Homo sapiens: one gene and its partner. The protein of the gene in region 1 interacts with the protein of each later gene in a pairwise test. Each region holds a gene or a part of one and is shown on either strand. Other genes may lie near its edges. The genes, in order: NGB and BTBD2.

Region 1 (3,224 bases):
TGATTCTGATTAATAGGCACCTTCCTCCAAGCAGCGATTCAGGGTCAGGACTCCTTTCACCTGTGGCTCTGCCATGTTCAACACGTGGCCCTCATGGTCTCTGTGAGGTCTGTATCACACCAGCAGAAGGATGACAGAGCATGGAGGAGCATGCAGGAGTTTTGGGGGACCAGGCCTCGGAGTGGCACACACATCTGCACGGTCCAGCGGCCAGAGCCCAGTCACATGCCCCACCTAATTGCAAGGGTGGCTGCATGACATCCAGCTGTGTGCCCAGGAGGAAGAAGAGCTGGTTTGTGGTCTGCCAGCCAGTTTGGGCCACAGACCCCACAGATGTCTGCCACTGGCTTCCCAGAGCTTCCTCCCAGGCCCCTCCCTCCTGTTCCACCCACTCCAGCCTTGGCCTCCCTGACTCCATCCTCCCATCCTGTCCTGAGATCCACTGCCCTGCAGCTTCATCTGGCACAGGCCAAGACCCAAGAAAAGATCAGGCCCGAGGGTCAGAGAGGCACACAGAACCAGTTTATTTCTCATGAATTTATAGGACCACAGTCAGCACAGAGCAAATGGTACAAGTGCAGATGGCTGGGGTGAGGGCGGGGGCCTCTGCTGCTGCCTTCTCTTCTCTCCAGCTGCCTGAGTACTGGCACACAGCGGGCAGTGAATCTGAGGAGCTGTGGCCTCACAGTCGCTGCAGGCTGAGCCAGAAAGGAGGGCCAGGGGAGGTAAGACTCACTCCTGCAGGAGCGGGTTGGTGATGAAGGGCTGGGGGAACTCGGGTCTCTCTGGGATGAAGTCACCCCTCCTTCCTGGCCGGTCCCCAGCCCCTCCCCACCTGGCCAGCTAGCTGGGTTCCTGCAGCAGCGGAATAGTCAGGGAGTTCCCAGCAGAAGTGCTGAATGAGGGAAAGGGAATGCCGCCAAAGGAAACCGACTCTGTCAGGGCATCTGCACAGCCCGCGAGACTCAAATGAGACCCATTGAGACCCAGGTCCCCCTTCCCTTCCCTGGCAGTTCTGATTCTGCTCCCACTGCCTGGGATTCCACCAAGAAGGCTAAAGCTGCTCTTTCTCTTTATTTGTGAAAAGCAAGCCATCTTGGGGCAGGAAAGCAGTGAAGGGACTGGGCAGGCAGGACAGAAGGCGCTGGAAGCTCAGCCATCTCACCCCCGCCTTGGCCTGCACTCACCTGAAGAAGCAGGACAGACAGAAGAGCCCCATCCTCTCCCACCTCCATACCTTTCCAGCTCATCCCACCTCTGCCACCAAAACACTCATCGCGGGGTCAGAGGGAGTGCCAAAAAAGGTAAAAAGAAACGCAAGAAAGAGGCTACTGGGGATGAGGGGACACCCAGAAGCCCCTTCCTGGAGGAAAAGCCACTCCTTCTGCAGCTGGACTCTAGGATACTGAGACCCAGCCCTGCCCCATCACCTCTCCAGTGTGGCCAAGGGGACAAGGACCAAGATGCAGGGAAGCTTGGGGAGCCTGGGCTACAACAGATACAGGCCAACAGACAGACACAGATGGATGGGGGCTGCCGGGCGGGGTCGCCTCTTACTCGCCATCCCAGCCTCGACTCATGGCCTGCACTACGGCCCCGTAGAGTTGGCTCCAGGCAGCCCGTGTGGCTGGTGTGAAGGCAGGGCCCAGACACTTCTCCAGCATGTAGAGCAGAGACTCACCCACTGTCTGCAGAGGCAAGGGGCACCTTGTCACTTCCAAAGGCAGAAAGGCACTGCTCCATTCCACAGGTGAGAAAACTGAGGCCTAGGACTGATTAGGGCTCCTGGGCCTTTTTTCCTCTCCTGCATTGAGTCCATGCTTCCTGAGCAGGGTCCTACCCAAATCCTTGGGTATCACATTGTGTCTACCTTTCCCTCTAAATGTGAGGCTTTATATCCTCACATTTTTCACCCCTGTCTTGGTCTTGCAACCACCCCATGAGTGGGGCCAAGACATTGCCTGGGACCTCCCAGCTTAGACCAAACCAAGTCATTGCTCCCAGACTTGAGTTTCCTCATCTGCAAGGCAGCAATGATGGGGTTAAGAGCCTGGGCTCTGGAGCCAGATAGACCTGAGTACAGATTCTGACTCCACCCTTCATCAGCTGGGTGACCTTGGGTAAGTTATGTAACCTCTCTGAGCCTCAGCTGCTTCATCAGTGATACAGGGAAAGTAGAAGCTCCAACTCCTGGGCCTGTTGGGATGATTAAATGGGATAATCCAGAAAAAGCTCTTAGCACAGCATCTGTATACAGGAAACCTACAATGATAATAGGCCAGGTGCAGTAGCTCACGCCTATAATCCCAGCACTTTAGGAGGCTGAGGTGGGCAGACCACTTGAGCCCAGGAGTTTGAGACCAGCCTGGTAAACATGGGAAAACTCCATCTCTACCAAAAATACAAAAATTAGCTGGGCATGGTGGTGCATGCCTGTAGTCCCAGCTATGAGGGAGGCTGAGGTGGGAGGATCACTTGAGCCTGGGAGGTTGAGGCTGCAGTGAGCTGTGATCACATCACTGTACTCCAGCCTAGGCGACAGAGCAAGATTCTGTCCCCAGAATAAATAAGTAAGTAAATAAATAAATAAAGATAATGGCTCTCATTTGCCATTATTACTCATAATAAAATAAGGTTTATTTATCTCACAAATATTAACTGAATATCCACTGTAGCCCTGGTAGATCAGGCACTATGCTGGTGCTGGGGATGGAGAGGAGGACAAGACCAACACAGCTCCTTCCTCAAGGTGCTCACCATCTGGCAAGGTGACTGGACTGTGTGGTGTACTGTCATATCAGTCGCCCCCAGTGGGCTACACCTCAAGGATTCATGCCCTTGAGTAGGGTCCTCCCACATTGACACTGGGCTTATCCATGTGAGTGGCTTTGGCCAATGGGACATTAGCAAAAGTGATGCAAGCAGAGGCTTTATAGGCACTTTCACACTGGGGCTTGTCCTCTAAAAACTCCCCCTTGGAACTCAGCTGCTATTCTATAAAGAAGCTCAGCTAGACTAGTGAATGACAACAAATCACAGGGACAGAGCTCAAAGGCTGACAGGCCTTGGACATTCTAGCCTCAGTTGAGCTCCCAGCTAAACATAACACACAAGTAACTCCAGCTACACCATGTGGAGCAGAAGAGCTGCCCAGCTGAGCCCAGCCATGAGAAATCGGAAAGCATTGTCATAGTTCTAGGGTTGTTTGATACATAGCAATAGAA
Region 2 (7,512 bases), on another chromosome or scaffold:
GGGGCGGTGGGTTTGCTCCCTCCACCTGGGTGGTCTTTGTGCTCTTTGGGGAGGGGGTAGGTTGGATGCAGCTGGAACTCACCCAGCAGCAGGTGCAGCTGGAGAATCCCAGGCTTTCTGTTTGAGGGGGGAGGTGGGGCGCCCCGGGCACCGGCTGACCTTGGGACATGTATGCGATTGCACTTGAGGGACCGCTGGCTCGGTTGCAAAGTGGGGAAGATGGAGGCAGGACAAGGACCCCTTGGAGAAAAGTAGGTGAGGGGTCTGCCCCCGGGGGGCTCAGGAGAGGGCAATGAGGCCCAGCGGGAGATAGCAGCAAGGTAAGGTGGGCGGGCCTGGGACAGCGGACCCTCGACATGCGGGGTTAGGGGCGTGGACCCCCACTCAGCTCAAATCCAAGTACAACTTTTGACTCCCACGAACTTAACTAGGAATGGCTTCTCGCTGACCGGAGGCCTTGTGAGGACACTTGGTCAATGCACACCAGCCTCCTGTTCTCACAATAACAGGCTGGAGAACAGAAAATACATTCAGAAAAGTCTAAGGGGCCGGGTGCGGGGGCGCACGCCTGGAATCCCAGCACTTTGGGAGGCCGAGGCGGGCAGATCACGAGGTCGGGAGATCGAGACCAGCCTGGTCAACACGGTGAAACCCTGTCTCTACAAAAATACAAAAATTAGCCGGGCGTGGTGGCGCACACCTGTAATCCCAGCTACTCAGGAGGCTGAGGCAGGAGAATCTCGTGAACCCAGGAGGTGGAGGTTGCAGGGAACCGAGATTGCGCCATTGCACTCCAGCCCAGGCGACACAGTGACACACCATCTCAAAAAAAATAAAGGACAGGCTGGGCGCGGTGGCTCACGCCTGTAATCCCAGCACTTTGGGAGGCCGAGGCGGGCGAATCATGAGGTCAGGAGTTTGAGACCATCCTGGCCAACGTGGTGAAACACCGTCTCTACTAAAAATACAAAAAATTAGCCGGGTGTGGTGGTGCACAACTGTAGTCCCAGCTACTTGGGAGGCTGAGGCAGGAGAATCACTTGAACCCGGGAGGCGGAGGTTGCAGTGAGCCGAGGTTGCGCTACTGCACTCCAGCCTGGGCGACAGAGCAAGACTCTGTCTCAAAAAAAAAAGGAAAAAAAATAAAAGGAGAAATCCTGTTTGCTGTTCACACAGTGGAGGTGGCCACGATGAAGGCCTGTGTCCTTGTGTTCATATTGAGGGCTGAGGAGCAGGAGCAGGAGGGTGGGTCTGTCTCCGGGGTGGCAGAGGTGGAAGGGGAGGCAGGAGAGGCCGGCACCGTTGGGGCAGCCTTTATTGAAAAAATTCACATATGAGTGGACCTGTGCAGTTGAAGCCTGCCTTGTTGAAAGGTCATCTGTGTTTCCTTAGCATTTCAGGAGGGTTGAAAATGGAGAGGGGGCACTGACCTGGTCCAGAACGACCCCCTGAGCAAGTGATGTTGATGGAGAGTGCAGTGCCCCAGGCTCAGGGATGGAAGGCCCAGAGCCCAGAGGGGCTGGGCAGGTGGGAGCCATGGCAAGGCCGGAGCAGGAGGAGTGAGGGAGGCCCTGTGGCCCAGTGTGACCAGATCCGCATTGAGGGTGGAACGCGCCGTGGATGGGCCCAGGAGCGAGGCTGGGGAGTAGCAGCTGCAGACTCCAGGCAGGAGACAGCAGCGGGCTCGGTGGGGACGGCAGAAATGAGGGGTAGAGGATGCAGGTCCTCTTTGGAGGAAGCGAGTTCCTGTGGCCAGGAGAGGAGGCAGCTTGGCAGGTGAGGGCGTGGGGGGCTGTGGTGGGGGTCCCCAGACTTCTGGCTGGAGCATCACAAGCCAGGACAGGCTCAGGAGGGACAAGTACTGGCTTGGATGTGTTGGCGGGACCTGGGGCTGAGAGGTCCGCAGAGCAGTGTGTCCCAAGTGCTCTGTGCCTCAGTTTCCATGATTGAAACAAGGTCACTCAGACACATCTGTCCTGGGGCTGTGGGAACAAACGGACCCGATGGGTTGCTGACAGCCACAGGCCACACAGCAGAGAGAAAGAAAACAGCAGCTGAGGCCGGGCGCAGTGGCTCACGCCTATCATCCCAGCACTTCGGGAGGCCGAGATGGGCAGACATCTGAGGTCAGGGGTTTGAGACCAGCCTGGCCATCGTGGCAAAACCCCGTCTCTACTAAAAATACACAAATAAGCTGGGCGCGGTGGCACGCACCTGTAATCCCAGCTACTCAGAGTCTGAGGCAGGAGGATGGCTTGAATCCGGAAGGCAGAAATTGCAGTGAGCCAAGATTGCGCCACTGCACTCCAGCCTGGGTGACAGGGCGAGACTCCGTCTCAAAAAAAAAAAAAAGGTGGGGGGATGTCGGGACGAACTGGGGGTGCTGGGATAAAGTCTGGAGTTCACCGATGAGCAGAGAGGGGCCGGGCCTTGCCAGCTGTGAGGAGAGCAAGTGGCCTGGGCTTGGGCCTGGTCCCTGGCGGGGGTGCAGGGTGAGCTGAGACATGGCAGAGAGGAGGCTGGGAGCAGGCCTTGGTGGTGGCCCCAGTGTCTGGACCGTCGCGCAGGGGTCGGCGTTTGTGCTGGGGAGGAGGCCAGGGGTTGCACGCGGCTTCTGGGCTGTTCCCCGGTCCTGGATGGGCACCCGTCCATCTCAGCGCGCTGGAGCCTGGCACACAGTAGGCACGCAGTGATTGTGCATTGAATGATCTGTGGGAATTAAACATCTGATTCTCTCATGGGGCTTGAAGGGAGAACTGAAGATCTCCAGGGTTGCACTTTTGTAGATGTGCACATTGGCTGGTCCCATGAAGTTAGTATCTAAAATACCTTTTTCTTTTTTTTGAGACGGAGTCTCGCTCTGTTGCCCAGGCTGGAGTCCAGTGGCGCGATCTCCGCTCACTGCAAGCTCCGCCTCCCAGGTTCATGCCATTCTCCTGCCTCAGCCTCCCGAGTAGCTGGGACTACAGGCACCCGCCACCACACTTGGCTAATTGTATTTTTTAGTAGAGACGGGGTTTCACCATGTTAGCCGGGCTAGTCTCAAACTCCCGACCTCAGGTGATCCGCCCACCTCGGCCTCCCAAAGTGCTGGGATTACAGGCGTGAGCCACCGCACCTGGCCTCCCCTCCTTTTTTGTTTTTTTGAGACAGAATCTTGCTCTATTGCCCAGGCTGGGGTACAGTGGCGTGATCTCCGCATGCTGCAGCCTTCAGCTCCCTGGCTCAAGCAATTCTCCTGTCTCAGCCTTCTGAGTAGCTGGGATTACAGGTGTGCGCCACCACGCCCAGCTAATTTTTGTATTTTTAGTAGAGACAGTATTTCCGTCATGTTGCCCAGGGTGATGGTGAACTCCTGAGCTCAGGTGATCCACCCACCTCGGCCTCCCAAAGTGCTGGGATTCCAGGTGTGAGCCACCGCGCCCAGCCTAACGTATCTTTATTCACTCTATCATGGAACTGTCAGCATTGTAGCGAGGTCTAGAAGTAGAACAATCTGGGTGGGTGTGGTGGCTCACGCCTGTAATCCCAGCACTTTGGGAGGCCGAGTCAGGCGGATCACGAGGTCAGGAATTTGAGACCAGCCTGGACAACATGGTGAAACCCCGTCTCTACTAAAAATACAAAAAATTAGCCTGGTGTGGCGGTGGGCACCTGTAATCCCAGCTACTTGGGAGGCTGAGGCAGGAGAATTGCTTGAACCCGGGAGGCGGAGGTTGCAGTGAGCCAAGATCACGCCACCACACTCCAACCTGGGTGACAGACTGAGACTCCGCCTCAAAAAAGAAGAAAAAAGAAAAACCACAAAAATTAGCCGGGCGTGGTGGCGAGCGCCTGTAACCCCAGCTACTGGGGAGGCTGAGGCAGGATAATCGTTTGAACCTGGGAGGCGGAGGTTGCAGTGAGCCAGGATTGTGCCACTGCACTTCAGCCTGGGTGACAAAGCGAGACTCTGTCTTGGAAAAAAAAAAAAAAGAACAGTGTGTTCTGGGGTCTCACATTTCATTGACTGCTTTGTGAGTCCTTGTTCCCATAACACATTGTTTGATGATTGCTGCTTTGTGGTATGTTTTGAGAACTGCTCACCAAATTCTTCCCAACTTTATTCTTTGTGAAGACTTTTCAGGCTGAGTGCAGTGGCTCACATCTGTAATCCCAGCACTTTGGGAGGCTGAGGTGGGAGGATCACTTGACCCCAGGAGTTCGAGACCAGTCTGGCCAATATAGCGAGACCTCATTACTTGGACATGGTGGTGTGTGCCTGTGGTCCCTGCTACTCAGGAGGCTCGGGTAGGAGGATCACCTGAGCCTGGGAGGTTGCCGCTGCAGTGAGCCATGATCCTACCACTGCACTCCATCCTGGGCGATAGAGTGAGACTCTGTCCCTAAAAAAAAAAAAAAAAAAAGCTGGGCACAGTGGCTCACGCCTGTAATCCCAGCATTTTGGGAGGCCAAGGCGGGCAGATCACCTGAGGTCAGGAGTTCGAGATCAACTTGGCCAACATAGTGAAACTCTGTCTGTATTAAAAATACAAAAAGTACCCAGGCATGGTGGCTTGCACCTGCTGCTTGAGAGGCTGAGGCAGGAGAACCGCTTAAACCTGGGTGGCAGAGGTTGTGGTGATCTGAGATCGCACGACTGGGCTCCAGCTTGGGCAACACAGCGAGACTCCACCTAGAAAAAAAAAAAAAGAGTGGGCGCAGTGGCTCACCCCTGTAATCCCAGCACTTTGGGAGGCTGAGGCAGGCGGATCACCTGAGGTCAGGAGTTTGAGAGCAGCCTGGCAAACATAGTGAAACCTTGTCTCTACTAAAAATACAAAATTAGCCAGGCGTGGTGGCAGGTGCCTGTAATCCCAGCTACTCGGGAGGTTGAGGCAGGAGAATTGCTTGAACCTGGGAGGTGGAGGTTGCAGTGAGCTGAGATCGTGCTGCTGCACTCCAGCCTGGGCAAAAAGAGTAAAATTCTGTCTCAAAAAAAAAAAAAGACTTTCTCAGCTGGTCTGACACATTTATTACTCTTCTAGAATCAGTCACCCACATCCACCCATCTGTCCACCCTACAGATACTCACTGAAATACAGTCCTGGCTACAGGAGGTGCATATGACAGAAAAACATCTCCTTCCTTATGGAACTTATATTCTGTGTTTTGTTTTATTATTTTTTGAGACAGAGTCTCGCTCTGTTGCCCAGGCTGAAGTGCAGTGGCATGATCTTGGCTCGCTGCAAAGCTCTGCCTCCTGGGTTCCCGGCAGTTCTCTTGCCTCAGCCTCCCGAGTGGCTGGGATTACAGGTGTGCACCACCACACCCGGCTAATTTTTGTATTTTTAGAGACGGGGTTTCGCCATTTTGGCCGGGCTGGTCTCAAACTCCTGACCTCAGGCTATCCCCGGCCTCCCAAAGTACTGGGATTACAGGTGTGAGCTACCGTCCCTGGCCTAAGGCGGGAAGATCTTTTGAAGCCAAGAGTTTGGTACCAGTGTGGGCAACATAGTGAGACCTTGACTGTGTGTAAAACAAAACCAAAACAGATAAAAGACACAGGTGCCAGCAAATTCATGTGAAGGGTCAGATAGTAAATATTTTTGGCAGGCCATACTGTCTCAGTTGCAGCTACTTAATTCTGCCGTAGCAGCACAAAAAGCCATAAATCAACAACATGTAACTGAGCAAGAAGAGCTGTGTTCTAATAAAACTTTATTGGCCAGGTGCAGTGGATTACACCTGTAATCCTGGCACTTTCGGAGGCCGAGGCAGGAGTATCACCTCAGGTCAGGAGTTCAAGACCAGCCTGGCCAACATGGTGATACTCCGTCTCTACTAAAAATACAAAAAGTGGCTGGGCGCAGTGGCTCACGCCTGTAATCCCAGCACTTTGGGAGGCCGAGGCAGGTGGATCATGAGGTCAGGAGTTCAAGACCAGCCTGGCCAAGATGGTGAAACCCCATCTCTACTAAATATACAAAAATTAGCCGGGCGTGGTGGCGAGCGCCTGTAATCCCAGCTGCTTGGGAGGCTGAGGCAGGAGAATTGCTTGAACCTGGGCAGCAGAGGTTGCAGCGAGCCGAGATCGCGTCACTGCACTCCAGCCTGGGCGATAGAGTGAGACCGTCTCAAAAAAATAAAAAATAAAAAAATTAGCTGGGCATGGTGGTGAGCACCTGTAATCCCAGCTACGTAGGAGGCTGAGGCAGGAGAATCGCTTGAATCTGGGAGGAGGAGGTTGCAGTGAGCTGAGGTAGTGCCAGTGCAGGCCAGCCTGGTCAACAAGAGTGAAACTCCGTCTCAGAAAAAAAAAAAACTTAATTTACAAAAACAAGTGGTGGGCCAGATTCACTCTAAGGGCCATAGTTTGCCAGCCCTGGGCTAACGGTGCCTGATGATCTTGAGAATCAGTTTGTCAAGTGATAAAGGAATTTACTGAGGAGATTGGTCTTTCTAAGGACATAAAGTTGGGTGATTTTTCTTTTCTTTTTTTTTTTTTTTGAGACGGAGTCTCGCTCTGTCGCCCAGGCTGGAGTGCAGTGGCACAGTGTCAGCTCACTGCAAGCTCCGCTTCCTGGGTTCAAGTGATTCTCCTGCCTCAGCCTCCCGAGTAGCTGGCATGTTTACTTTTATCTGGTTTGAACTGTTTCTTCCTGAAGCCTTATTAGGTTTAACAGTTTTTCTGTGGTCTTGTGCTCTGCAGTAGAGTATCCTGTAGTAAGCGGGATGGTTTGGATGTGTGCTGTCCAATACTAGGCACTCATGTGCCAGTACGGACTACAGATGTGGACAGTGTGACCGAGGAGTTGAATGTTGAATTCAGCTGAATTTGGATATAGATTTAAATAGCCATGTGTGTCTAGTATTGACCCCTTGGACTCTTAGACTTTTTAAAAATTAAATTTTTTTTTTTTTTTTTAGAGACAGGGTCTCACTCTGTCACCCACACTGGAGTTCAGTGGCTCGATCATAGCTCACTGCAGCCTCCAGCTTCTGGGCTCAAACAGTCCTCCCACCTTAGCCTCCCAAGTAGCTGGGACTATAGACATGCACCACTATGCTCGGCTGATTTTTTTCTGTTTAGTAGAGATGGGGTCTGCTGTGTTGCTCAGGCTGGTCTTGAACTTGTGGGTTCAGGTGATCCTCCCAACTTGGCCTCCCAAAGCACTGGGATTACAGGTGTGAGCCACTGCTTTGGCTAAAAAATAATTTTTTTTTTTTTTTTTGAGACGGAGTTTTGCTCTTGTTCCCAGGCTGGAGCGCGATGGTGTGATCTTGGTTCACTGCAACCTCTGCCTCCCAGGTTCAAGCGATTCTCCTGTCTCAGCCTCCTTAGTAGCTGGGATTACAGGCTCCGGCCACTGCACCTGACTACGTTTTGTATTTTTAGGAGAGATGGCGTTTCATCCTATTGGTCAGGCTGGTCTCGAACTCCTGACCTCAGGTGATCCACCCGCCTCGGCCTCCCAAAGTGCTGGGATGACAGACATGAGCCACTGCGCCTGGCTAAAAAATAATTTTAAA

What was found.
Region 2: the proteins of NGB (region 1) and BTBD2 interact in binary tests that used the Homo sapiens proteins (3 or more experiments, as listed by UniProt).

Annotation. Positions count from the first base shown.
Region 1 is NC_000014.9:77,264,983-77,268,206, forward strand, and holds the end of NGB (neuroglobin), read right to left. Parts: intron 1,689-3,224; coding exon 1,554-1,688; 3' UTR 501-1,553; downstream 1-500. UniProt on the Homo sapiens protein: Monomeric globin with a bis-histidyl six-coordinate heme-iron atom through which it can bind dioxygen, carbon monoxide and nitric oxide.
Region 2 is NC_000019.10:2,005,484-2,012,995, reverse strand, and holds part of BTBD2 (BTB/POZ domain-containing protein 2), read left to right. Parts: intron 1-7,512.